Linked DNA regions of Homo sapiens. The protein of the gene in region 6 purifies or fractionates together with the protein of the main gene of each other region. This does not show direct contact. Each region holds a gene or a part of one and is shown on either strand. Other genes may lie near its edges.

What was found.
Region 1: the proteins of IPO11 (region 6) and UNC45B purify together in Homo sapiens (affinity purification with mass spectrometry; one large-scale study listed by BioGRID and IntAct). This does not show direct contact.
Region 2: the proteins of IPO11 (region 6) and SH3GL2 fractionate together in Homo sapiens (co-fractionation; one large-scale study listed by BioGRID). This does not show direct contact.
Region 3: the proteins of IPO11 (region 6) and PDLIM5 fractionate together in Homo sapiens (co-fractionation; one large-scale study listed by BioGRID). This does not show direct contact.
Region 4: the proteins of IPO11 (region 6) and DHTKD1 purify together in Homo sapiens (affinity purification with mass spectrometry; one large-scale study listed by BioGRID and IntAct). This does not show direct contact.
Region 5: the proteins of IPO11 (region 6) and CTDP1 fractionate together in Homo sapiens (co-fractionation; one large-scale study listed by BioGRID). This does not show direct contact.
Region 7: the proteins of IPO11 (region 6) and ZDHHC11 purify together in Homo sapiens (co-immunoprecipitation; one large-scale study listed by IntAct). This does not show direct contact.

The regions. Positions count from the first base shown.
Region 1 is NC_000017.11:35,164,817-35,168,316, reverse strand, and holds part of UNC45B (protein unc-45 homolog B), read right to left. Parts: intron 257-3,500; coding exon 1-256. UniProt on the Homo sapiens protein: Acts as a co-chaperone for HSP90 and is required for proper folding of the myosin motor domain. Plays a role in sarcomere formation during muscle cell development. Is necessary for normal early lens development.
Region 2 is NC_000009.12:17,582,066-17,585,565, reverse strand, and holds part of SH3GL2 (endophilin-A1), read right to left. Parts: intron 1-3,500. UniProt on the Homo sapiens protein: Implicated in synaptic vesicle endocytosis. May recruit other proteins to membranes with high curvature. Required for BDNF-dependent dendrite outgrowth.
Region 3 is NC_000004.12:94,654,442-94,657,941, reverse strand, and holds part of PDLIM5 (PDZ and LIM domain protein 5), read right to left. Parts: intron 3,483-3,500; coding exon 3,302-3,482; intron 516-3,301; coding exon 395-515; intron 1-394. UniProt on the Homo sapiens protein: May play an important role in the heart development by scaffolding PKC to the Z-disk region. May play a role in the regulation of cardiomyocyte expansion. Isoforms lacking the LIM domains may negatively modulate the scaffolding activity of isoform 1.
Region 4 is NC_000010.11:12,092,954-12,096,453, reverse strand, and holds part of DHTKD1 (2-oxoadipate dehydrogenase complex component E1), read right to left. Parts: intron 2,382-3,500; coding exon 2,183-2,381; intron 1-2,182. UniProt on the Homo sapiens protein: 2-oxoadipate dehydrogenase (E1a) component of the 2-oxoadipate dehydrogenase complex (OADHC). Participates in the first step, rate limiting for the overall conversion of 2-oxoadipate (alpha-ketoadipate) to glutaryl-CoA and CO(2) catalyzed by the whole OADHC.
Region 5 is NC_000018.10:79,749,303-79,752,802, reverse strand, and holds part of CTDP1 (RNA polymerase II subunit A C-terminal domain phosphatase), read right to left. Parts: intron 1-3,500. UniProt on the Homo sapiens protein: Processively dephosphorylates 'Ser-2' and 'Ser-5' of the heptad repeats YSPTSPS in the C-terminal domain of the largest RNA polymerase II subunit. This promotes the activity of RNA polymerase II.
Region 6 is NC_000005.10:62,485,763-62,489,262, reverse strand, and holds part of IPO11 (importin-11), read right to left. Parts: intron 1,493-3,500; coding exon 1,402-1,492; intron 1-1,401. UniProt on the Homo sapiens protein: Functions in nuclear protein import as nuclear transport receptor. Serves as receptor for nuclear localization signals (NLS) in cargo substrates.
Region 7 is NC_000005.10:844,487-847,986, forward strand, and holds part of ZDHHC11 (palmitoyltransferase ZDHHC11), read right to left. Parts: intron 3,295-3,500; coding exon of another isoform or gene 3,130-3,294; coding exon 3,028-3,129; intron 1-3,027. UniProt on the Homo sapiens protein: Endoplasmic reticulum-localized palmitoyltransferase that could catalyze the addition of palmitate onto various protein substrates and be involved in a variety of cellular processes.

The DNA.
Region 1 (3,500 bases), on a different chromosome or scaffold from region 6:
GATCTGTTTGAGCAGTGACACTCCATTGGTGATGATGAAGGTGGCGCGGCTGAGCTTCGTGGAGGCATGGATGAGGGCCTCCACGGCCACCAGCTGGTCCGTCTCGCGCTCTGAGCCACATAGTGCCACCATCATCTCCATCACACCTTTCAGTCCCAGCAGCTGGTTGCCCAGGTCAAAGGGGCCCTGCAGGATCCCTGACACTGTCTGGATGGCATTCAAGTTCTTGTCCATGTCCTGGGGGTCAAACTTGCCCCTAAAACAAAGGACAAGGGTGGTCAAGAGAACTGGTCCAAGAGAGTGGAAAGAGTGTGAGATTTGGAGGCAGTAGGATTTGGATTTGCATCCTGGCTCCACCACTCATGTGCTGTGTGATATTGGGCAATTCAGCGAACCTCTCTGAGCCTCAGCTCCTGTAAACTGAGGATAGTACTACTAGTTCTCAGAGTTGTGGTGAGGATAAATGACATAACAGCTGTGTCACAGAGTGTGCCTCTGGGAAATACACTCTGACTCAGGGATTGACATGCAGGAAGTTTATTAGAGAGAGCTCTTGGGAAGAGAAGGAAGCAGGACTGGGGCAGAGGGAGGCATTTTGCAGCTATCACAAAGCCTCAGCCTCCAAGAAGTTCTGGAGCTGGAAGACCCTTCACAGTTGTTCCAAGTTAGAGTGAGTCTTTTTCTTTCTTTTTTTTTTTTTTGAGACTGAGTCTTGCTCTGTTGCTGGAGTGCACTGGTGCCATCATAGCTCACTGTGACCTCAAACCCCTAAGCTCAAGCAATCCTCCCACCTCAGCCTCCTGAGCAGTTGAGACTACAGGTGCACACAATCATGCTCAGACAATTGTTTAAATTTTTTTGTAGAGATGGGATCTTGCTATGTTGCCCAAGCTGATCTCAAACTCCTGGCCTCAGATGATCTTTCCACCTGGCCTCCCAAAGCACTGGTATTATAGGTCTGAGTCACCTCAACTAGCCTGGTGTGAGTGTTTGCATACTGGCTTCCCTGGGAAGGGTGAAACAGCTCTCCCCAGGTGAGACAAGTCCCAAAGAGAGATAACAGCTGAGAGCTGTCAGCTGACAGCCTTTCCAGCAGCTGCTGTGTCTGGGAGGACAGTACAGCATTGACAACAACACAAAAAGGCCTAGCGTGATGCCCGGCACACTGTGTCTCTCTGTGACATGGCCTGGGCCAGTCACTCCCCTCTGGTGATCTGGTCTTAGTCCCTTCCCCTGTTGGTGAGCATGTGGGCTAGATATCCAGGAACGTTCTGCCTTGCTTTCAGAATCTATTATCATCTACTCTAGGGGAGAATCTCTGCGTGGGAATGTCAGAGGTGACATGCCTTCTGATGCTTCTCATCTGCCCAGGTTGGTGCATTGTGGGAAACAGGGCAGATGTGCACAGTGGAAATGCAGCTGTGTATAAATGCAAGAAGGCAGCGTGGACTGGTCAGGAGAACTCCACACCAAGAGTCCAAGACCTGGGCTCTGGTCCCATGTCTGCCTCTGATTGCTGGAGGATCTCAGGCAAGTTCCCCTGGGGAAGAGGACTCAGCTTTGGAAGCTCTGACAGCCCCTCCAGCTTGAGCATCCCATGTCCTGTGCCTCATCTCTCCACTCAGTGCCCAGGGAACCAGCATCCTTCGTAATTAGTTGCGGTCTGACCTTTGAGCTGGCACTGGGTCCCCACACAGCCCCCGCCCCTGATGAAGCGGGATGTATTCCACTCTTGCTAGGGGCAGGCTGGGGCACCATTTGATGAAGGCAGTGACCCCTCCTCTCAGCATTCCACAGGCTGACAGGAGGGAGCCTCAATCAACAAGCCCAAACAAGAACTAGCTGGATGACAGGTAATGGGAGTCAGTTGGGGACCTCATGAGGGACTCAAGAAGTCAGCAGGAAAAGTTGAAACTGAGGTAGAGAAAGACAGAAGCCTTGAAAAGACCTAAGTGAACCAAAGTCAGGGTGAGCAGAAGCCGTGGGGTAGAGAAGGAGTTGGCAAATCCAGGGAGTTGAGAATAGCTTTCACATTATTTTATTTTATTTGAGACGGGGTCTCACGCTCTTGCCCAGGCTGGAGTGCAGTAGTGCATTCAAGGCTCATTGCAGCCTTGACCTCCTGGGCTCAAGTGATCCTCCTACCTCAGCTTCCCAAGTAGCTGAGACTACAGGGGTGTGCCACCACACTTGACTCATTTTTAATTTTTTTTTTTTTTTTTTTTTTTTTAGAGATGAGGGTCTCTCTACATTGCCTGGGTTGGTCTCAAACTCCTGGTCTCAGGCAATTCTCCCACATCGGCCTCCCAAAATGCTAGGATTACAGGCATGAGCCACCACACCTGGCCAGCAGCTTTTTGCCTTTCTTTTTTCTTTTTGAGATGGAGACTTGCTCTGTCACCCAGGCTGGAGTGCAGTGGTGCGATCTTGGCTCACTACAACCTCTACCTCCTGGGTTCAAGCGATTCTTCTGCCTCAGCCTCCCTAGTAGCTGAGATTACAGGCATGTGCCACCATACTCGGCTAATTTTTGGTATTTTTAGTAGAGATGGGGTTTCACCATGTTGGTCAGGCTGGTCTTGAACTCCTGACCTCAGGTGATCCGCGCTCCTCGGCATCCCAAAGTGCTGGGATTACAGGCGTGAGCCACTGTGCCCAGCCAGCTTTTTGCATTTTAAAGGATTTTTAAAAATATGTTGACAGAGACTTATCTGTCCCACAAATACTAAAATATTTACTCTCTGGCCCTTCATAGAAAAAGTTTGTTGACCCCTGGAATATAGAAAGGAAAAGCAGAGTAAAGGCAACGTCTTCACCCACCTAAGACTCACCTGGAGTGCTTTTAAGCATGCAGCTTCCTGAGCCACACCCCAAACTACCGAGTCAAGAGGGGATGTCTCAGAAATCTGAATAATTTACAAGTCTGGGAATCACTGCAATAAAGAATTAAAAGGTCATGCACTGGAGTCACACTGATGCTGGAGCACCAGTGAGGAGACTCAGGAACTGCAGCTGCTGAGGGTCCTAACCCCTGTCTAGCTCTGCAAAGCCACATGAGTCTTAGTCTTGAAAGAACCGGGCCTCCCTCCTTGACAAGCTGACATGTGTTCCTTTCAACCACAGAAGCCAGTGGTAGGTATAAAATATGTCCATGGCTGGGCAAGGTAGTTGATGCCTGTAATCCCGGCACTTTGGGAGGCAGAGGCAGGAAGATTGCTTGAGCTTGGGAGTTCAATACCAGCCTGGGAAACATAGCAAAACAAAAAATACAAAAATTAGCCAGGCGTGGTAGTGCACACTTATAGTCTCAGCTACTTGGGAGGCTGAGGCAGAGGCAGGAGGATCGCTTGAGCCCAGCAGGCTGAGGCTGCAGTGAGTCATGATCATGCCACTGCACTCCAGCCCGGGTGACAGAAAAAAAAAAAAATTAGCCCAGCATGGTGGCAAGTGCCTGTAGTCCCAGCTACCCTGGGAGGCTGAGGTAGGAGGATTACATGAGC
Region 2 (3,500 bases), on a different chromosome or scaffold from region 6:
GTCCCCCCTCCTATCCTCCTGTACAGTGATTGTCATTCTAAGACATGTGAGTATAATAAACTCTGTTTTCTTGAGCCTCTCCTATGTCCCCTCTTGTGGCTACACCTCACTGAACATTACCTAAAAGAACACAGGACAAGGGTACGAAGGATTAAAAGAACAAAAAGAGAAAAAAGGAGGCCAAAAAATCCACTGACTTCTTACCTACTTAGCATCTCCCCTATCTGGCCTTAAATTGAGAAGAATTGCTCATCTCTAGAAAGCCCCATCAGGTATCCACCTTAAAGTTTGAAGCAGTTCTTAAACTCCATCTCCTCACCTAATTCTCATTATTCATTTGTCAGTGTGTCCTGCCCTTCTCTCGCCGCTGCCTCAAGCTACTCCTCTGAAGAAAGCCCTCGGGTTGCTTGATGCCCTGAGACTCTGTATGCAGCACAAGAGGCTTGGCAGAATGGAATCTGCTCTGCAAGCTTCAGCTCCCTTCCCCTGAATATTAAACCTCTCCCTTCCACAATGACATCTGTCTCAAAACAGTCACCATTTGCCCCAACCAAGTCTTGCCATTTTCTAGGGTACTTCTAATTAATTTGCAGGTTACTTTAAAATTTTCTAAGTAGACTGAAACCAAAATTCATATAAACTCAATTTAAAATATTAAAGAATCACTATGGGGAAAAAAGCTTGCAAAAATATAGCTGTTTCAACAACACAAACTTCAATCACGAGGACTCTCAGTCTACAGAGAAATCATTTTCAGTCACCACTTTCTTTTCATATACCCCACAGGCCCGTATCGTTGACTTCAAGCGCATTAACAACATTTTGTTTTACATGGTTCAAGTGATCCTTATTATGCAAGCATGGCACTCTCACAAGCATTACCTCATTCAATCCTGACACCTCTGGAAAGGTTTTTTACATTTGATTGCTGCTAAATTAATGCAGAGAAGGCTGCATTTTGATCAGGCATCCTAAAGCCCAGTAACAGAACTGTTGGAGTGATTATTGTAAGAAACATCCACTTTCTCCTGATGACATGATGAATTTATTTATTTATTTATTTGAAACAGAATCTCACTCTGTTGCCCAGGCTGGAGTGCAGTGGCACCATCTTGACTCACTGCAACCTCGGCCTCCTGGGTTCAGGCAATTCTCCTGCCTCAGCCTCCTGGGTAGGTGGGATTACAGGCACCTGCCACCTCGCCCAGCTAATCTTTTTGTATTTTTAGTAGAGACGAGGTTTCACTGCACTGGCAAAGCCGGTTTTGAACTCCTGACCTCAAGTGATCCGCCCGCCTTGGCCTCCCAAAGTGTTGGGATTACAGGAGTGAGCCACCACGCCCCACCCTATTTTTACTTTTCGAGGGGAGGAAGGGGCAGCAATTAGGAATTTATTTAAGAATCTGGTAACAGGCTAAGGGCATTCTCCCTCAGAAAAATGCATGTATAAAATGTTACTTATAATTTTATAAAATATATAGGCCCCTTGCAGCCTATTAGAGACTACTGGCTAAGAATGTGAAAGGGTACAGGTGTAGAAATCCTGGGTCAAGCAACAAGCCACAGCCAAGATTTTAAAGGCAGCAGAGAGTTGACTGCTTAGAGGCAATTAAGAAACTGAAAATCTCACTGAGATAAAGTCATAACTAATTAGATATTTAATCCAATACTTAGTAAGTTTAACATCTCACCAAATCAACAAATGCATGAAAAGACTTATGTAATGGTCTCCTGAGCAAAGCATCCATATAAAATACAGCATTCTGAAAGAGGAAATTAGGTAAAACAAAAAGACACAGAACACAAACATGATGAAATTTTCCCAGTTAAGGAATCTGAGTGTGACAAATAAACATATACCAGACTGTATCATAAAACCCAGCCTACCCAAATTAATTTTATCATTTAAAAAAATCAGAAAACACAATTTATAATAGGTATATTTCTGACTTAGTCTGTTCAGGCTACTAACAAAATATCTTAGACGGGGTAATTTATAAATAATAGAATTTATTTCTCACAGTTTGGGAGGCTAGCAGTCCAAGATGAAGGCACTAACAGATTTGTGCCTGGCTAGGGCCCACCCTTTGCTTCAAAGATGGTGCCTTGTTGCTAAACCCTCACACGGTGGAAGGGGACAGGGTGACCCCTTCAACTTCTTTTAAGAGAGCACTAATCCCATTCATGACTTAATCATGAGTGCCCTCATGACTTAGTCACCTCCTAAAGGCCCCATTTCTTAATACTGTCACATTGGCAGTCAAGCTTCAACATACGTATTTTAGAGGGACACATTCAGAACTTAGCAATATACTAACCAACTCATTAAAAAAGGAGAAAGTATATCTTTTTGATGCAATAGAAAGTTATATGTTATTTATAGGCTGAACTGTCCTCTTAGATGTTGAATCAAATATAGAATACTGTGGTTAATCCTTTTATGCAAATAACGACTGTTATGGATTGAACTGTGCCCCTCCCAAAATTCATATTAAAGTCCTAATTACAATAGCTCAGAATGCAACTTTATTTGGAAATAGGGGCATTACAGATGGTAATTATTTAAGATAAAATCATACTGGAGTAGGATGGGCTTGCCCAATCCTATATGACTGGGGTCCTTACAAAATGGGGAAATTTGGACACTGAGACACACACAGGGAGAATGTCATGTGAGCATGAAGGCAGAGACCAAGGTGATGTATCTACAAGCCAAGGAAGCCCAAAGATTCCCAACAAAGCACAAGAGCTAAGAAGGCAGCCTCGAATAGATCCTGTCTCATACCTTCAGAGAGCTCGTGGCCCTACTGGCACCTTGGTCTCAGACTTCAAGTGTGCTTGTCTCAAGAAGTGGGAAACAATGTATTTCTGTCGTTGAAACGACTCAGTTTGTAGTACTTTGTTACAGCAGCTCCAGCAAACTCATAAAATGACCTAATATATTTTACTTTATAATAGACTTTTACATATTGTAAAGCAAAATGTGTCCACATCATATGCATGATAGAGTGAATTTTTAAAAATACAGATTTTGTAGGAGCTTCATGTTCACTGGAAACAGCTATTTTTAACTAAGCTGCTGCCAGTTTAAAACAAGTGTAAAAAAACTGACATGACTTTTGTAAAATGAAATCTCAATATGAATAAAACTCACTAAAAGAGCAACACAAGATCATCTGCCCTTTATTACAGTAAAAAAAGAATACTTTATTCTAATTATACAGTAAATTATATCTTTATGAGCAATTAAGTAATGAAGTACATGAAAATAAGATGATCAATCAATTTTTGGTATCATTATATATTTTCATGCTGAAAGGATTTTCTTCTCTAATAAATTTTACTTGGCAAAAGCATTTTTTTACCTCCAAATTGTAAACATATTGAAAATAACTGTCAGCAACAAGGTAGAAATAACCAATTCTAATATAAGACAACAGTTGTGACACATTTAATCAGAAATTCCAAGTACAAACAATATACTGTTTTATTTATCATCG
Region 3 (3,500 bases), on a different chromosome or scaffold from region 6:
CTGACGTCGGGAGTTCGAGACCAGCCGGGCCAACATGACGAAACCCTGTCTCTACTAAAAATACAAAATGAGCCGAGCATGGTGGCACATGCCTGTATTCCCAGCTATTCGGGAGGCTGAGGCAGGAGAATCGCCTGAACCTGGGAGGCAGAGGCTGCAGTGAGCCGAGATTGGGCCATTGCACTGCAGTCTGGGCAACAAGGGTGAGACTCCGTCTCAAAAGAAAAAAAAAAATCTACATAGTTTTTTCTACATGCTTAGAGCAGCATTAAATGCTTCCAAAACAATTAAGAAAATAACTTTGCCTAATATTTTCTTGAGCTTTATAGTAATATAAGGGTTAATGTTTTACCTTTATTCAAAATTCAAGAAACAAATGGCTCCCTGATCTTACCAGTCTCACAGTAGGGTTCACCATCCTCCAAGTGAAAAACATTGTTCCGAATGGGCTTTCCACAGGCTACACACACAAAACAGGAAACATGCCAAGTTTGTTTCAACGCACTGATGACTTCCTGTTACAGAAAGGTAATTGGATGTAAAAAAAGAAGATGACAATAAATACATAAATGTTTATTCTAATATCTGTACCAGTAAATCCCTGTAGAGCTAATCCAAAGTAGGCACACATACTTCATTTTTGTCTTGAGCTTTCCCTCAAAGTAACAAGAGATACTTAAGAACAGACTCACAAATCATCTAAACGGATGCATATTTAGACGTGTGTTCTTTACAAATGCCAATCAATAAACTTAAAGAATGATCACTATGTTATTTATACATTATATGTACAGTGAATAAAGTAAGCATTTCATAAATGCTTGCTACAAAACTTTCTGCTTCTTCTCAAAGGGTGTCAGGAAACATTAACTTACCAAGGTTTTATGGTATTATCTGCAAAAGTTCTGGGGGAAGGAGGAAGCATTTAAAAATTAAAACAAACCTATACTTTGGTGCATTTTAGAAGCAATAATATAATATATATAATTTAATAACAAAACATAATGGGGCCGGGCGCAGTGGCTCACACCTGTAATCCCAGCACTTTGGGAGGCCGAGGCGGGCGGATCACGAGTTCAGGAGATCGAGACCATCCTGGCTAACACGGTGAAACCCCGTCTCTACTGAAAATACAAAAAATTAGCTGGGCGTGGTGGTGGGTGCCTGTAGTCCCAGCTACTTGGGAGGCTGAGGCAGGAGAATGGCATAAACTCGTGAGGTGGAACTTGCAATGAGCCGATATCGCGCCACTGCACTCCAGCCTGGGTGACACAGCAAGACTCCGTCTCAAAAAAATAAATAAATAAATAAAAATAATAAAATATACATAATTATATATAGTTGTATATATTACATGTATATAATGTATATAAATGTATATAATGTAATAAAATATAATAAAAATATAATGTAATCCAATCAGTTTAACACGTGTTTAGGCTTTTGGAAATCAGCTAAGATGGCACTAAGCACAGACTCGAATGTGTAAAATTTGGACCATATTCTAGTCAGCAATGGCCCAATGGTTAAACATACCAAGTTATAAAGATTTGGGCCAGATATTAGTTAGTAAAAGAGGTTTTGGGTGTTGGTTTTACAAGAAATCATTTCTTTGGATTGAGAGAAAGATGGAGCCATTAAAATAATTTTGGATGAGTAGTGAATACTCTTTCTATAATATTTATCACAAAAAATCATATACATAAAGCATGATTACAATTTTGTAAACACATTACTTATAAAGAGCAAACTAGAAAAAAACACATCATAAGGTTAACAGTAATTATCTGTGATTGGTAAATATTTAGGTCATTTAAATTTATTCTTTAAATTTTTTGTGTTTTCTAATTGTGCTTGAGTGAACTATTTTCTTTTATAAAAAATATCAAAATAAAATGAAATAATATAGACTTATTAGCCATAGAAATTGTCACAGTTCACTACTGAAGGACAATGGGAAGAAACAGACATTTAGATCCAAAAAATTCACCATGAACATTTGTAGAAGATGTATATTGAATCAAACTATCTCCCAAGGCTTCCAGAATATTCTTCCCTTTCCATCCTTGAGAGAAATCTTTAACAGGTAATCAAATAACTAAAATACAATCTAGACAAGCTATTGAAGTTCTGGCCCATCTCCAAGGCAATGAGTATGAGATTTCCATTTCCCAGAACTTTATTTGGGTCTAAGACTCTAACTTCACTTTGTTTTGTTATTCTAACATTTATAGAATACCTTGATACACTAAAACAGTATTAATGAATATTCTATTAATTATTTGTTATCATTTGGGAAGGTACAGTCTGAACCATTCCACTTCTTTGTTCCCAACATATTACACAAATCAATAATCTAGAAATATTTCAGGTGACATATATATAATTTTAAGTGTCTTCAACGTTTCAGACATATTTAAGGATATCCTAAGAGATATCTTAAGACTACTCAATAATTCATACTACCTATTCTCTCAATTAACAATAATTAGAGTTTCATTATCATATTTTCACATTGAGAGTATATTAGAGTTCAGCAGGGCCATGTCCAATTTTTGTGTGAAGCCAGGTACTCTGGCTTCTTCTGAAATCAGATTCCAGCTCCTAGTCACCATAAAGTATGCCTGACCCTTACTTTATCATTGGAAACTAGGTATTCCAGAGCAAGAAATTCATGTATTCATTATTTATTATGTACTGTATCTGATTCCTAAATTACTCCTTTTTTTGCAAAAAAGGAAAAAAAATTATTTTTCCATCACATGTGCACTCTCATAAAACTGAGGTTATATTTTTAAACACTGTATGTATTCAAGAAAAATATATCATTTATAAACCTCATGTTTTATATATTTCATGAAATCAGTGTCCTGTGCTTGAACTCTGACAAGTAGGGAAATACTGCTCTTATAAAAGCTATGGAATTTAATTTAAAACAGTGAAGGTGTCAGTTCTAAGAACTCAGATGTGTGTGGTCCTATGCGACCTCTTCATTCCTGAGCAAACAGGCTCCTGTTGAGGAAGCACACCCACAGTAAATTATTTTTTCCCCACAGTGGCTAGACTTTCACCAGACAAGCCAGCACTCAGTGAGACAAAACCAAAGACAACCTAACCCCATGAGTCCGATATATTTCCACAGAGGTCTATTTAGTTTTGCTTTACAATAATAAATAGTGCCGAAAGCAGAGAGGGCATAAAGCAAGAAGAAAATAAAAAGTTAAAGTGATAGAAGACTTTCATATCAAAAAATTATTCTACTTTAAAACTCATTCAGAATAAAAACGTTTCCAATACTTACTCCAAGGATCTTCCTTTGGCATCGACCACATTCAGGGGCAAAGAATTTCTCATAGCACAGCTCACAATACAGGGCTCCTTTCTCCTCTACAAATCCAATGTAGGCCATTGTATTTTTGCAGTGAGCGCAGTTGAATTCTTCTGGGTGCCAAGATTTCCCCAGTGCCACTAAGAATGGTCCTCTGACAGAAGAAAAAGAG
Region 4 (3,500 bases), on a different chromosome or scaffold from region 6:
TGATCATACCACTGCACTACAGCCTGGGCGACAGAGCAAGACCGTGTCTCAAAAAAATAAATAAAATAAAATAGAACCCTGAGGTTCACTGAGTCATTCAGCTGCTAAATTCAGAGCTAAACAGAACACAATTAGTTCTTCTGAGAGCAGTCCTCTTTCTGGTACCAAGGATCAGAAACGCTCATAAAACGTGTATTCCTCTGCTTTAATTTATATCTATAAGGAAATAAACTTGGAGGAGGGGAATCTATTTTATTTTCTAGTATCTAGAAAAGGAAGTTCCAAAGTAACAAATTCCCCCTCCGTCACATTAACCATCTGAATCAGCACCATGGGACAGAAATGAAATGCAAGCCATGAGTAATTTAAAATTTTCTGGCAGTCACGTTAGAAAAGATAAAAAGAAACAGGTGAAATTAATTTCTTTTCTTCTTGTTTTTTCTTTGAGACCGAGTCTCGCTCTGTCGCCCAGGCTGGAATGCAGTGGCACAATCTCAGCTCACTGCAACCTCCGCCTCCCCAGTTCAAGCGATTCTGTTGCCTCAGCCTCCCGAGTAGCTGGGACTACAGGCACGCGCCACAACGCCAGCTAATTTTTCTTTTTCTTTTCTTTTCTTTTCTTTTTTTTTTTTTTTTTTTTTGAGACGGAGTCTCGCTATGCCACCCAGGCTGGAGTGCAGTGGTGCGATCTGGGCTCACTGCAAGCTCCGCCTCCCGGGTTCACGCCATTCTCCTGCCTCAGCCTCCCGAGTAGCTGGGACTACAGGCGCCCGCCACCACGCCCGGCTAATTTTTTGTATTTTTAGTAGAGACGCGGTTTCACCGTGTTAGTCAGGATGGTCTCGATCTCCTGACCTCGTGATCCGCCCGCCTCGGCCTCCCAAAGTGCTGGGATTACAGGCGTGAGCCACCGCGCCTGGCCAAATTTTTCTATTTTTAGTAGAGATGGGGTTTCACCATGTTGGCCAGGCCGGTCTCAAACTCCTGACCTCAAGTGATCCACCCACCTTGGCCTCCCAAAGTGCTGGGATTACAGGCATAAGCCACCATGCCCGGCATTTCAATAACATATTTTATTTAAGTCAATATACTCATTATATTGTCATTTCCATATCTAATAAATTTAAAAATATTATTTTGGGTTTATATTTTACATGCTAAGTGTTTGAAATATGGTGTGTGTATTATCCTTACAGCACATTAATCAGGACTGGCCACTTTTCAAGTACTCAATAGCCACTGATGGCTAGTGGCTTCCATCTTGGACAGCATGGTTCTGAACATTCATTAGAATCTTCTGAGTTACCTCTCACCAAGGTGCCAGGCAGGTCTGCAGCTATGGTTTGTAGAAATGAATCACTGAGGTTCTATTTCTGGTCCTGCCGACACTGCAGTAAATAGATTTGGGCGAGGTTTGCTTAATTCCCCCTGCTTCAATCTTCCCATCTGCTGAGTTTTCTATTGCCCTTTTTCTATTCAATGAGGAACCATGTCAAGTGTGAAGAGTATGGGAGGCCAGGCACGGTGGCTCATGCCTGTAATCCTAGCACTTTGGGAGGCTAAGGCAGGTGGATCACTTGAGACCGGGAGTTTGAGACCAGCCTAGCCAACATGGCGAAACCCCTGTCTGTACTAAAAATACAAAGATTAGCCAGGCGTGGTGATGCATACCTGTAATCCCAGCTACTCAGGAAGCTGAGGCACAAGAATTGCAATTGCTTGAACCCAGGAGGCAGAGGTTGCAGTGAGCCAAGACTGTGCCACCTGCACTCCAGCCCAGAACTGTGTCAGCTTTAGCTCTTAAAGTTTCATGTCCTGCCTGGGCATGGTGGCTCATGCCTGTAATCCCAGCACTTTGGGAGGGCGAGGCAGGCAGATCACCTGAGGTCAGGAGTTTGACATCAGCCTGGCCAACATGGCAAAACTCCATCTCTACTAAAAAGTATGAAAACTAGCCAGGCACGGTGGCACACGCCTGTAATCCCAGCTACTCGGGAGGTTGAGGCAAGAGGATCACTTGAGGCAGGAGGATCATTTGAACCCGGGAGGTGGAGATGGCAGTGAGCCAAGATCGTGCTACTGCATTCCAGACTGGGTGACAAAGCAAGACTCCATCTCAAAAGAATAATAATAGTAATTTTAATTTTTAGGGGGCATATCACACAAGGGTTTATAATTGTACCTGATGATTTTGTACATGATGGGGTTGGTGTAGAATGGCTCATCCAGCTCATTGTGGCCCCACTGCCTGTAGCACAACAGATCAATAATCACATCCTTGCGGAACTGGCGTTGGTATTCAAAAGCCAGTCGTGTGGCACGGACCACTTCCTCTGGGCTGTCTCCATTGACATGGATGATGGCACAGCCCACAAGCTTCCCTGAAGGACAGAAGACCAAGCCGAAACAGGACAGTTAACCCAGAATGACACTGGCCCTCTCTAAGCCCTACTTCCTGCATCAAAAGACAGCCCAATCCTCACAGGTAGATATTGGTTTGGTTAACAACCCCAGCTTTGGAGACCAGCTGGCAAGTTCCAACTCTGGGACTTATTGTGTGACCTCGGTAAAGCTACAAATCTCAACCTACTTATCTATAAATCGGGAATGGGGCTCCTACCTCTTAGTGATGTTGCAAAGGTTCGATGAGTGAATGCACAAACAATTGTAATGCCTAACAGTGCCTGGTACATAGTAGTTAATATTTATTTTGTTACTGTTATTATCATTACTCTCTTTCTCCCTGAGATAAAAGGGTCATTAAAGGATGTACCTTAGAAAAAGATAAATTTGCTCCAAAGAATCTTCATCAGACTAATCATAAAGGATTCACATAGACAAGCCCAAGAGGCATCCAGTCCAGGCTGTTTGTATAAAAGGAGAATAGTTGCTACCATCAAACAGCCTTGTAAACTGTGAAACTGGGAATGGGTAATAACAGCACTGTCTTTATCTTAAGATGACCAATTTCAGCCTGGCACAGTGGTTCACGCCTGTAATCTCAGCAGTTTGGAAGGCTGAAGAGGGATCACACAAGACCAGAGGTTCAAGACCAGCCTGGGCAACACAGTGACTCAATCTCTACAAAAATTATTTTAAAAATTAGCTGTGGCCAGGTGCAGTGGCTCACGCCTATAATCCCAGCACTCTGGGAGGCTGAGGCAGGTGAATTACCTGAGGTCAGGAGTTTGAGACCAGCCTGACCAACATGGTGAAACCCCGTCTCTACTAAAAACACAAAATTTAGCTGGGTGTGGTGGTGGACACCTGTAGTCCCAGCTACTCGGGAGGCTGAGGCAGGAGAATTGCTTGAACCCGGGAGGTGCAAGTTGTGGTGAACCGAGATGGCGCCATTGCACTGCAGCGTGGGCAACAAGAGCGAAACTCCATCTCAAAAAAAAAAAAAAATTAGCTGTGCATGGTGGCATGTGTCTGTAAATCGCAGCTACTAAGGAGGCTGAGGAGGGAGGATCTCTTGAGCCAGGGATGTCAAGGCTGCA
Region 5 (3,500 bases), on a different chromosome or scaffold from region 6:
TCTGCATAACCAGCCGGTGCCACTAGGCTTTCCTTAGGAGCCTCTGCATAACCAGCGGGTGCCACTAGGCTTTCCTTAGGAGCCTCTGCATAACCAGCCGGTGCCACTAGGCTTTCCTTACGAGCCTCTGCATAACCAGCCGGTGCCACTAGGCTTTCCTTACGAGCCTCTGCATAACCAGCCGGTGCCACTAGGCTTTCCTTACGAGCCTCTGCATAACCAGCCGGTGCCACTAGGCTTTCCTTAGGAGCCTCTGCATAACCAGCCGGTGCCACTAGGCTTTCCTTACGAGCCTCTGCATAACCAGCCGGTGCCACTAGGCTTTCCTTAGGAGCCTCTGCATAACCAGCGGGTGCCACTAGGCTTTCCTTACGAGCCTCTGCATAACCAGCCGGTGCCACTAGGCTTTCCTTACGAGCCTCTGCATAACCAGCGGGTGCCACTAGGCTTTCCTTAGGAGCCTCTGCATAACCAGCCGGTGCCACTAGGCTTTCCTTAGGAGCCTCTGCATAACCAGCCGGTGCCACTAGGCTTTCCTTAGGAGCCTCTGCATAACCAGCCGGTGCCACTAGGCTTTCCTTACGAGCCTCTGCATAACCAGCCAGTGCCACTAGGTTTTCCTTAGGAGCCGCTGCAGGTGCACCTGGTTTCTGTGACGTGAGCCGACTTGATCGGGGCACACCCAGGAGATCCCCAGAGCCCTGAAATTCCAACCACCTGATGTCCTGCCAGACACCCTCCCTCCTGGTGCCGTGCTGGGACGTCCCACTGCGCCAAGGAACCTCAGCTACAACCTTAGAGGTGGAAGCCTGGTTAAATGTGCACAGCCTGTTTTGATTTTACCCTGATTAGGGGCAACTGAGCCATACTAGCCTTCAGTTACAATCCCGAAAAGTCACTGAGAGAAACTAGGGACAGTCACCATATGTGAGTACCCTAAGAATATTTTCTTAGCTAACGTAGATACAATGTAGCTAACATACACACCTATGTGACACATTATGTGTGATACAGCCACACACACACACAGCAGGCATATAACACACATGCACTCGAGGCTCACACACAAACTATAGCACGGTAATGTGATACACCTGCACGCACACACAGCACGCATGTAACACACATGCACTCGAGGCTAATATACACAAACTATAGCGCAGAAATAACTTGAAACCATTCTTGCTGGTATTAGAAGAATCACAGTTCATTTATAAGAGACAAAAGGAATAAAATCAGCTGATCAGATGGAACCAACAGAAGACAAGAGAACCCCGTGGGCTGGCACACACAGCCGATCAGTCACGACAAGCTCGTTCAGAGAACCCAACTGTTCGTGGTCCAGGAAATACCGCATGAGAGAAACACAAGGGCCCCAGAACTCCAAGTCCTGTCCAGGTGGCAGGCACTGGGCCGTAGGATGACAGCCCCTCCCCCGCTCCCTCCTTCCCTCCTGGACCTGCCTCTGTGCCCAGCCCCTCCCTCCCTGGCCTGCCCTCTGTGTGCCCAGCCCCTCCTTCCCTGGCCTGCCCTGTGTGCCCAGCCTCCCTCCCTCCCCGGCCTGTCCTCTGCGCCCAGCCCCTCCCTCCCTAGCCTGTCTTCTGTGCCCAGCCCCTCCCTCCCAAGCCTGCCCTCTGTACCCAGCCCCTCCCTCCCCGGCCTGCCTCTGAGTCCAGCCCCTCCCTCCCTGGCCTGCCCTCTGTGTGCCCAGCCTCCCTCCCTCCCTGACCTGCCCTCTGTGTGCCCAGCCTCCCTCCCTCCCTGACCTGCCCTCGGCGCCCAGTGCCTCCTTCCCCAGCCTGTCCTCTGTGCCCAGCCCCTCCCTCCCAAGCCTGCCCTCTGTACCCAGCCCCTCCCTCCCCGGCCTGCCTCTGAGTCCAGCCCGCTCTGTAAGATGGGAACTGCCATCTTTCATCACATACTGGGACCCCTGGATCCATGAGATCCTTTCTTAAAAAGCAATGCATCCCATCATTTAAAAGCGGAGTAGGCAGGGCGTGGCGGCTCACACCTGTAATACCAGCACTTTGGGAGGCCAAGTCAGGCGGATCACCTGAGGTCAGGAGTTCAAGACCAGCCTGACCAACATGGTGAAACCCCATCTCCACATTAAAAAAAAAAAAAAAAAAAAAAAGCAAAAAATTAGCCAGGTGTGGTGGTGGGCACCTGTAGTCCCAGCTACTCGGGAAGCCGGGGCACGAGAATTGTTTGAACCCGGGAGGCGGAAGTTGCAGTGAGCTGAGATCACGCCACTGCACTCCAGCCTGGGTGACAGAGCGAGACTCTGTCTCGGGGGGGAAAAAAAAAGGCAGAGTAGCGGGAAGTGCACGCCCTAATACCTGCCGTCCAAGTTTTAAACGAATTTATTTTTATGTCAACTGGAATGAATATTTTCTACTGAGAAATAAAGGCTTACTTTTAATTGCTACATGAGAGTGAGGGGTTGCAAATTAGCTGGGAGTGTCGGTGCATGCCTGGAGTCCCAGCTATTTGGGAGGCTGAGGAAAAAGGATCCTCTGAGCCCAGGAAATGGAGGCTGCAGTGAGCCTGGGCCATGACCGCAACACTGCACTCCAGCCTGGGCGACAGAGCAAGACCCTGTCTTAAAAAAAAAAAATCTCCGCGCACCTTTTCTGTGCACCTGCTTCCCCTCTGCACACCTCGTCTGCAGATCTTGTGCCCGTGCCTGTGTTGGGCTGGGCACCGCCCGCTTCCCCTCCATGCCTCATCTGCAGATCTTGTGCCCGTGCCTGTGTTGGGCTGGGCACCGCCTGCTGTTTGCTTTGAGGACGCCAGGCGTATCATACACGAGTTTCCTTTATTTCCAGTCTCTGCTGACACTAACGACGCTGTCAGGGCCACGAGTCTGGCCTCCGGTTGCTACAGCAACAAGCTTTTGGCAATTAACAAATTCATCAGTCATCTCTTTTCCTCCGCATACACGCTGACGGCTGTTCCGGGAAAACCCGGCTCCCATCCTCCCATTAGGCTTCCTCCACCTCACTCCGTTTTGAGAACTTGAAACAAAACAAGACAGAGACAGTTCTCGTAAACGTGAAGGTGCTGCCGTGAGGGGTGTCCCGAACCCCTGGAAGAGCTCAACCCACTGGCAGGTGGACGGGACAGGAGACCCTTGCGAACAGAGGCGGTGTTTCAGGCCCCCAGAGCAGTGCATGGCGCTGACCTCGGGGAGGGGGCAGTCATGACTGTGAACAGGAGAGCCGAAGTGCCCTCTCAGGTCGAGCTCGGGACGGTCACCAAGTCCAGGAGGGGGCGGGCCTGGATCTCGTGTGCACGGGGCGCGACCCTCACAGTCTGGTGCCCGGCTCCCTGCCTGTGTGCTGATGCCTTGCTCAAGGGAGCCCTGGCCCCTCCTAGTGGGGCCAGACTCGGGGGTGCTGGCAGGTGTGGTTGACTCCCTCACAGCGACGCTGGGTTGGACGTATCAGGGGCACTGAGCAGAGCAGGGGCAGGGGCAGGGGCCCCGACCGAAAGTGAAG
Region 6 (3,500 bases):
ATAAAACTAGTTTTTTAAAAAATTTATATTTAAACACAATTTGTTAGTTTCCCAATTCAATTAAGTATAACACATTTCATGGTGTCAAAAATGGACACAAGTACAAAGGGAAAGTCTAAGTTTTATGATTATCATTAGAGAACACAGGATTAAAAACCATTATAGCATATTTGAAAAATGTTATGACAAGCAATATTCTAGAAAATATACACCACAAAATGCTAATGTGCTATATACCACAAAATTATTTTTTTTGAGACAAGGTCTTGCTTTGTCACCCAGGCTGGAGTACAGTGGAGTGAGGTTTTCTCAGTTCACTGCAGCCTCATCCTCCTGCGCTCAAATGATCCTCCAACCTCAGCCTTCTGAATAGCTAGGACTACAGGTACTAACCACCAGGCCCAGCTAATTTTCCTAATTTTTGTAGCGACAGGTTTTTGCCATGTTGTCCAGGCTGGTCTGGGACTCCTGGGCTCAAGTGATCTGCCCACCTCAGCCTCCCAAAGTGCTGGAATTACAGGCGTGAGTCACCATGCCTGGCCAACACTCATTCTGACAACATGCTCTTCTCTAGGATACACCACTACACCTGGCATTTTTACAAGGCTTTTATTTACTCATATCCCTATAGGTGAAAATCTCAGGTTCTGTCCTTAAGATCCTCTTTTCTTTTCCCAAGGCTCCTTACATACATGCACTCCGAAAGTATATCTCTATCTCCTACCACTTCTAATGAGGTAACTGTTTCCTTGTCATTAAGGCTCAAAAGTTTAGGATCATCTTTGATCACTTTTCCTTGCCTAGCACATTCAATCGGTTGCTAAAAGTCAATCAAGTAACAATAGTTACTGAATATGCCCAGCACTGGGAATAAAATATAAACAAAACAGACGTGATCAATGCCCCTAGGACTTACAGTCTAGCAGAAAAGACAGAAATCATAAATCAATGTTAGTTAATAGGCAGATAATTAGTTACTTGTGTACAAAGTGTAATGACCAAGTGTCAAAAATTTACATCATCATTTTCTCTCAAATCCATAATCAATTATTTCCATTCCCACTGCCACCATTCTAAGAGAGGCTAACACTATTTTAACCTTTTCTCACTATTTCTCACAACACGCTCCAGATAGACTTTCTGCAAGCAGTATGACTACTGTTTTGCTTTTGCTTCTATTGTATTTACTACAGGAAAATTTATCATCGTCCAAACTATAATTCAAGGCCTATCTCAAATGCCACCCCCTTGGAAGATAATAAGTTTTAAAATTGTTTTTCTCAAATTCATATTTATTATATGACCCAGGAAACAGTACAGTATGCATTGTAGGCACTCAGACTATTTCTTAACTAAACGTTAAAGAGATTAACTCAAAGTTAATCACAAAATATGCCTTACCTTGAAGTGTTTGCATCATTTCTAGAAGTACAGGAGTAAGAGTCTGATTATATTCATGGAATATATCTATAAATAATACTTCAGTGCATGGCTGGAGAGGGAAAAATACAAATTTCTCATCAAAACAGTTGCATACTATATTGACTAATTCTTTAATAAAGCAAATACTTAATCTTAAAATTCTAAAACTTTGAAAATGTTTCCAACTTTTGATTTGTTAAAAAAAAAAAGTAAGGTTACCATTTTTTTATAACCAACACAAAGGAAAACAAAATCGAATTATAATTAATAAAAGAAAGTTGATTTCATTTCAATTATTTGTCATTACGCATTCAAAAACTTAAAACTATGGCAAGCAAAGTGTACATTTTAAATTAATCATACCTTAAATTTAAAAAGCATTCTGTAGCCACTCATTTATAGCTCAGTACTATAAATGGCTGACTACCCAAGATTCTTTTTTTTTTGAGACACAGTCTCACTCTGTCACCAGGCTGGAGTGCAGTGGTGTGATTTCGGCTCACTGCAACCTCCACCTCCCAGGTTCAAGCGATTCCCCTGCTTCAGCCTCCCGAGTAGCTATTATGTATTTTCTTAGCAATGATATAATAAGCAAAAACAGGAACTCCAATTTGCCAAATAAAGTAGCCTTTCTCTTAACAAACACAAGCGGTAACAGAAATTAGCATTAGCTACATTTAAAAAAATGATTTGTTTGGTTCTTAAAAGTACTGAATCATTTCACATTGCATGCTGGTATCAAAACATCTCATGTACCCCATAAATATGTACACCTACTATGTACCCACAAAAAATTTTTTAAAATAATTTTTTATTTAAATTTTAAAAAGGAATTTAATCACTAGATCGTTCACAATATTTAAATTTTTTAATTAAATTTTTAAGGTATTGTGTGGTGTTTTAAAAGGAACATTATAAATATACACACTGAAATATGGTCAGAGGATGTGTCATCTCAGATAACCATCAACACTGGGAGATGTTTACAGGAAGCTAAAGTAGCCATGAGTTGATAACTAATAAACTAGCTTATCATGAAGGGCTCATTATATTATTCTATTTTTTAATATGTTTAAACTTCTCCATAAAAGAAACTTTTAAAAATTAAAGGAATGAAATTTTTTAAAGTTTTAAAATCACCAGTAATCTCTCTGGTTAACAACTGTATGTTTATGAATCTAAAAACATTAAAGATAACATTTTTAGAAGACAAATAGCTAATTATGTAAATTATGTAAGTGCAAATCTTAAAAAGAAGAGCTCAAACATCACATCTGGTAACGGCAAAACATTTGTCATATTAATAAATGCGTTGTAAAAGTATCCTATAACTGAAAGCAATGGGCTAGTCTCTGAGAATCACATGAAGTGGTAAGAGAAATAACATACCAAAAGAAACTTTACTAATGAAATATATAGAAGGAAAAAATTCTAGCTTAAGAATGGCAGCTTTCAGTTTGACAAACATTTTCTATTTGTGTAATGACAATTATTTCCCAAGCAATGTACTAAAAGATGAAGAAAAAATTTGTTTTCCGACCCCAAGTTAAACAAAAGAAAAGGCCAGGCACAGTGGCTCACGCCTGTAATCCCAGCACTTAGGGAGGCCGAGGCGGGTGGCTCACGAGGTCAGGAGATCGAGACCAACCTGGCTAACAAGATGAAACCCCGTCTCTACTAAATAAACAAAAAATTAGCTGGGCGTGGTGGCGGGCGCCTGTATTCCCAGCTACTCGGGAGGCTGAGGCAGGAGAATGGCATGAACCCAGGGGGCGGAGCTTGCAGTGAGCCGAGATGCACCAGTGCACTCCAGCCTGGGCAACAGAGTGAGATTCTGTCTCAAAAAAAAAAAAAAAGAAAAAGAAAAAAGAAAAAAAACTCAGATTAAACGTCATAATTTAATATGAATATAGTTCTTAGTTTCTTATAAACAGTTTCTTATCTGTCTGACTTAATGTTGGGAATCTTTAATTTTTTTTTTTTTTTTTTTAAGAGACGGGTTTTGCTTTGTAATCCAGGCTAGAACGCAGTGGCATCATCATGGCACACGGCAGCCTCAACCTCCTGGGCTCAAACAA
Region 7 (3,500 bases), about 62 Mb from region 6:
CCTGATGCAGACAGGCCTCCCTACCAGCCAAGGAGCACGCGGGCTCGGTCCACTCGGGGGGCCCTGAGCATGGTCTGTGCTGGGGTCTCCATGGCACCATGCTGGGCAAAGGCACTGAAGCCAGGGAAGGGGAGAGCCACGAGAGTGCCGTGGCACCCAGGAGGGCCTGCAGGCTCAGGGACCTGGATCTCTGCACCCAAAGGGAACTCGGGCTGAGGAGGCCCTGGAGGAGCCCGGCCACACCTCGGCTGCAGTCCCCCCTTCTCCAAGGGTCTCGTGCAAATCTGAGCCAAAAGCGATGTCCATGCTGTAGACGTGAGACCAAATCCACTCCCAGTCTCTCGTCTTTGCTCAAAAGATGCAGAGAATAATCCATCCACAAAAACCAATTCTGGGCAGCAGTTCCTGGAACATACTTTGACTAAACCATCTTCCCTTGGTCTTTCTGCCATGATGATATTTTTTTAAAAGTATCCTTTAACCTCCTTTAATCCTTTCCATTGTATTATGTTCACCTAAGCTTGTTTAAATCCCTTTTTCTATTTTCAACTGGAGGCCAGAGCATGAATGCCGCAGTCCTCCGAAGAGGCAGTTAGGGCACAGCTGCCTTCCCCGCGCTCCTCCTCCCTCCAAGAGTCTTCTGGATAATCCAGGGGTGACGGGTGGCTCCAGGCATGAGCGGCTCCCTGACTGCTGCTCCCTCATACTGCCTTCCCTCTCACAGCTTAGGTTTCCCAAGCAGCAGCCCCTCCAGGCAGCGGACACGCCCTACCCTGCCCCCAGTCCTCCTGGGCTTGAGCCCACTTGTGGGGAGTAAAGACCCCTCATCTTCATCCTACTGTCTGGACAGGACTCCCCTCTTCATCCAGGAAAGAAGGCGGGTCTCTAAGACCACAGAGACAAAAGCCCACAGGATGGGGCAGAGCCATTCACGCGGGGCCTCCTCTCCCCGCAGCCACCCAGGGACATTCTCCTCTTGGTTAGCACAGCCTCCTGCCCCTGCTGCCTGTGTTTAACCTGCAGAGTCCGAGGCCAGCGCTCACAGTCTTCCCAGGACACCAGCGCCGCCTGCCTTCTTTCCGTCCCCCTTCCTCTCTTATCACTACGAAGTATGCAGCCTCCCTCACAGGGGCTCTGCCATCAGCTGGGCCTCCCCATGGGGGCTCCGCCATCAGCTCGGCCTCCCTCGCGGGGGCTCTGCCATCAGCTCCTCAACTTTCCTCATCTTGCTCTCAATGCCGTTGCTCTCTCCGCCTCTGGCGGATGAAGGGACAGAAGCGAGGTTGGCACAGATGCCGGCGTTGGCTGCTGCCTGGAGCTGAGGGCGCCCATGACCCCGGCCCTGCTCTCCTGATGCCCCTTTCCCACACCCAGGCGGTGTCTACACTTGGCACCCACGTGGTCCCTCTCCAGCACCCCTCCTGAGGAAGGCAGACCCTCTCCTTGCCACCTGCCTGTGGGCCCTCACCCCCTCACCTTCCCCACCAGGACCCGCCAGATTGAGCCAGCTCGAGGCACCAGAGCAGAATGAGTCCAGAAGGAAGTGGCACCTGGGGCTAGCATGAGCCAGAGGAGCTGGCCCCACCTTGGCCATCGTGGAGCTGCTCTTCTCCAGGGGAGGAGGCCGGTGGGTCTCCCCGGCCCCTACCATCTCACGCAGCCTCTGGACTCGCTGTGCGGTCATGCAACCTCTCTGTCCCTGCCGGGCTGCTCAGCCTCTCTGGACACATGCTGTGCTCCAGACGGGATGGCAGGGAGGCAGGGCAGGGACCGCCCGGTGCGTCCTGTGACACCAGGCAACGTTGGTCCCCACTCCCACGCACACCAAGGCCTCTTTCAGGTCAGCACAGAGTAGCTGGGGAGCAGGCGTGGTTCTTTTCCCTGGTGATCTTCACAATACAGTGCTGCAGACAGCCGGGGCTCAGCACACGGGGCCTTGAGAGTCCCTGGATCCTCCACTGTGCTCAGGGGAAACACCTCTCATCTATGAGCCTCCACCGTGCTCAGGGGAAACAACCTCTCGTTCTTGAGCCTCCACCGTGCTCAGGGGAAACACGTCTCATCTGTGAGTCTCCACCGTGCTCAGGGGAAACACCTCTCGTTCTTGCACCTCCACCATCCTCAGTGGAAACACCTCTCATCCTTGCGCCTCCACCGTGCTCAGGGGAAATACCTCTCGCCTGTGAGCCTCCACCATGCTCAGGGGAAACACCTCTCGTCCTTGAGCCTCCACCATGCTCAGGGGAAACACCTCTCGTTCTTGAGCCTCCACCGTGCTCAGGGGAAACACCTCTCGTCTATGAGCCTCCACCGTGCTCAGGGGAAACACGTCTCATCTGTGAGCCTCCACCGTGCTCAGGGGAAACACCTCTCGTTCTTGCACCTCCACCATCCTCAGTGGAAACACCTCTCATCCTTGCGCCTCCACCGTGCTCAGGGGAAAGACCTCTCGCCTGTGAGCCTCCACCATGCTCAGTGGAAACACCTCTCATCTGTAAGCCTCCACCGTGCTCAGGGAAACATCTCTCTTCCTTGCATCTCCACCGTGCTCAGGGGAAACACCTCTCGTCTATGAGCCTCCACCGTGCTCAGGGAAACACCTCTCATCTGTGAGCCTCGACCATGCTCAGGGGAAACACCTCTCGCCCATCTGCGCTGGGTGCCCACTGCCCTTCCGTGGCCCCACCCTTGTGCTGGATGAGCCTCAGCCTGGGTGGAGAGAAGGCAGCCCAGCCCAGGACAGCGTGGTCAGGAGGCCTCAGCCAGCGTGGCCCCGCAAGTGCCCCCGGGGGGCCTCCAGGGACTTACTCTATGCGGATGAGCTTGTCCAGGGACGGCTGCACCACAGCCCCAGAGCCAGACAGGAGGCCGGGGCACGCAGGCACCAAGCGCCACCACATCAGGACAGGGACGCGGCCCCAAGAGGACCCTCCACCCTTTCAACACGATGACCCCTGCCCACAGACCCCTCCCTTCCAAATTCCCCCAAGCCTGGCCCGTGCCGGCCATCCCCTCTGTGCCCCTCACCAATAATTCCGGCTTCCCACGCAGTTGTTGATCCATTTGCAGTGGTGGTCGAAGCCGGACACACACTTATTGCAGGAAATGCAGTGTTTGGTTTTCTTGTTCCTGGAGGGATGAATCGGGGAACGCCTGTCAGGCCCCAAGTGCGCAGGTTGGGGCAGGGCCAGAGGTCCATCACTGGAAGCCAGGTGCCTCGGAGGAACCAGCCCTGTGCGGCCTGGGGAGAGGGCGTCCAGCAGGGAATGGGAGGCTGGGGGAGGGTGTTGAGGCCTGTGGGGAGGAGGAGAAGCAGGGCAGCTGTGGGCAGAGGTAGCCACAGAGCAGGAGGAGCTGTGTCTTTGGCCGCCCTGAGCATAGACCCCCCGCCAGCCGTCCTACACCAGCCTCACTCTGGGCCATGGCCCTGGAGGAGGCCGCGCCTGCCCCATGGTTCCAGGAGTTGAGGCCGGGGGCTTGGATCCCACCTGTGCCTACAG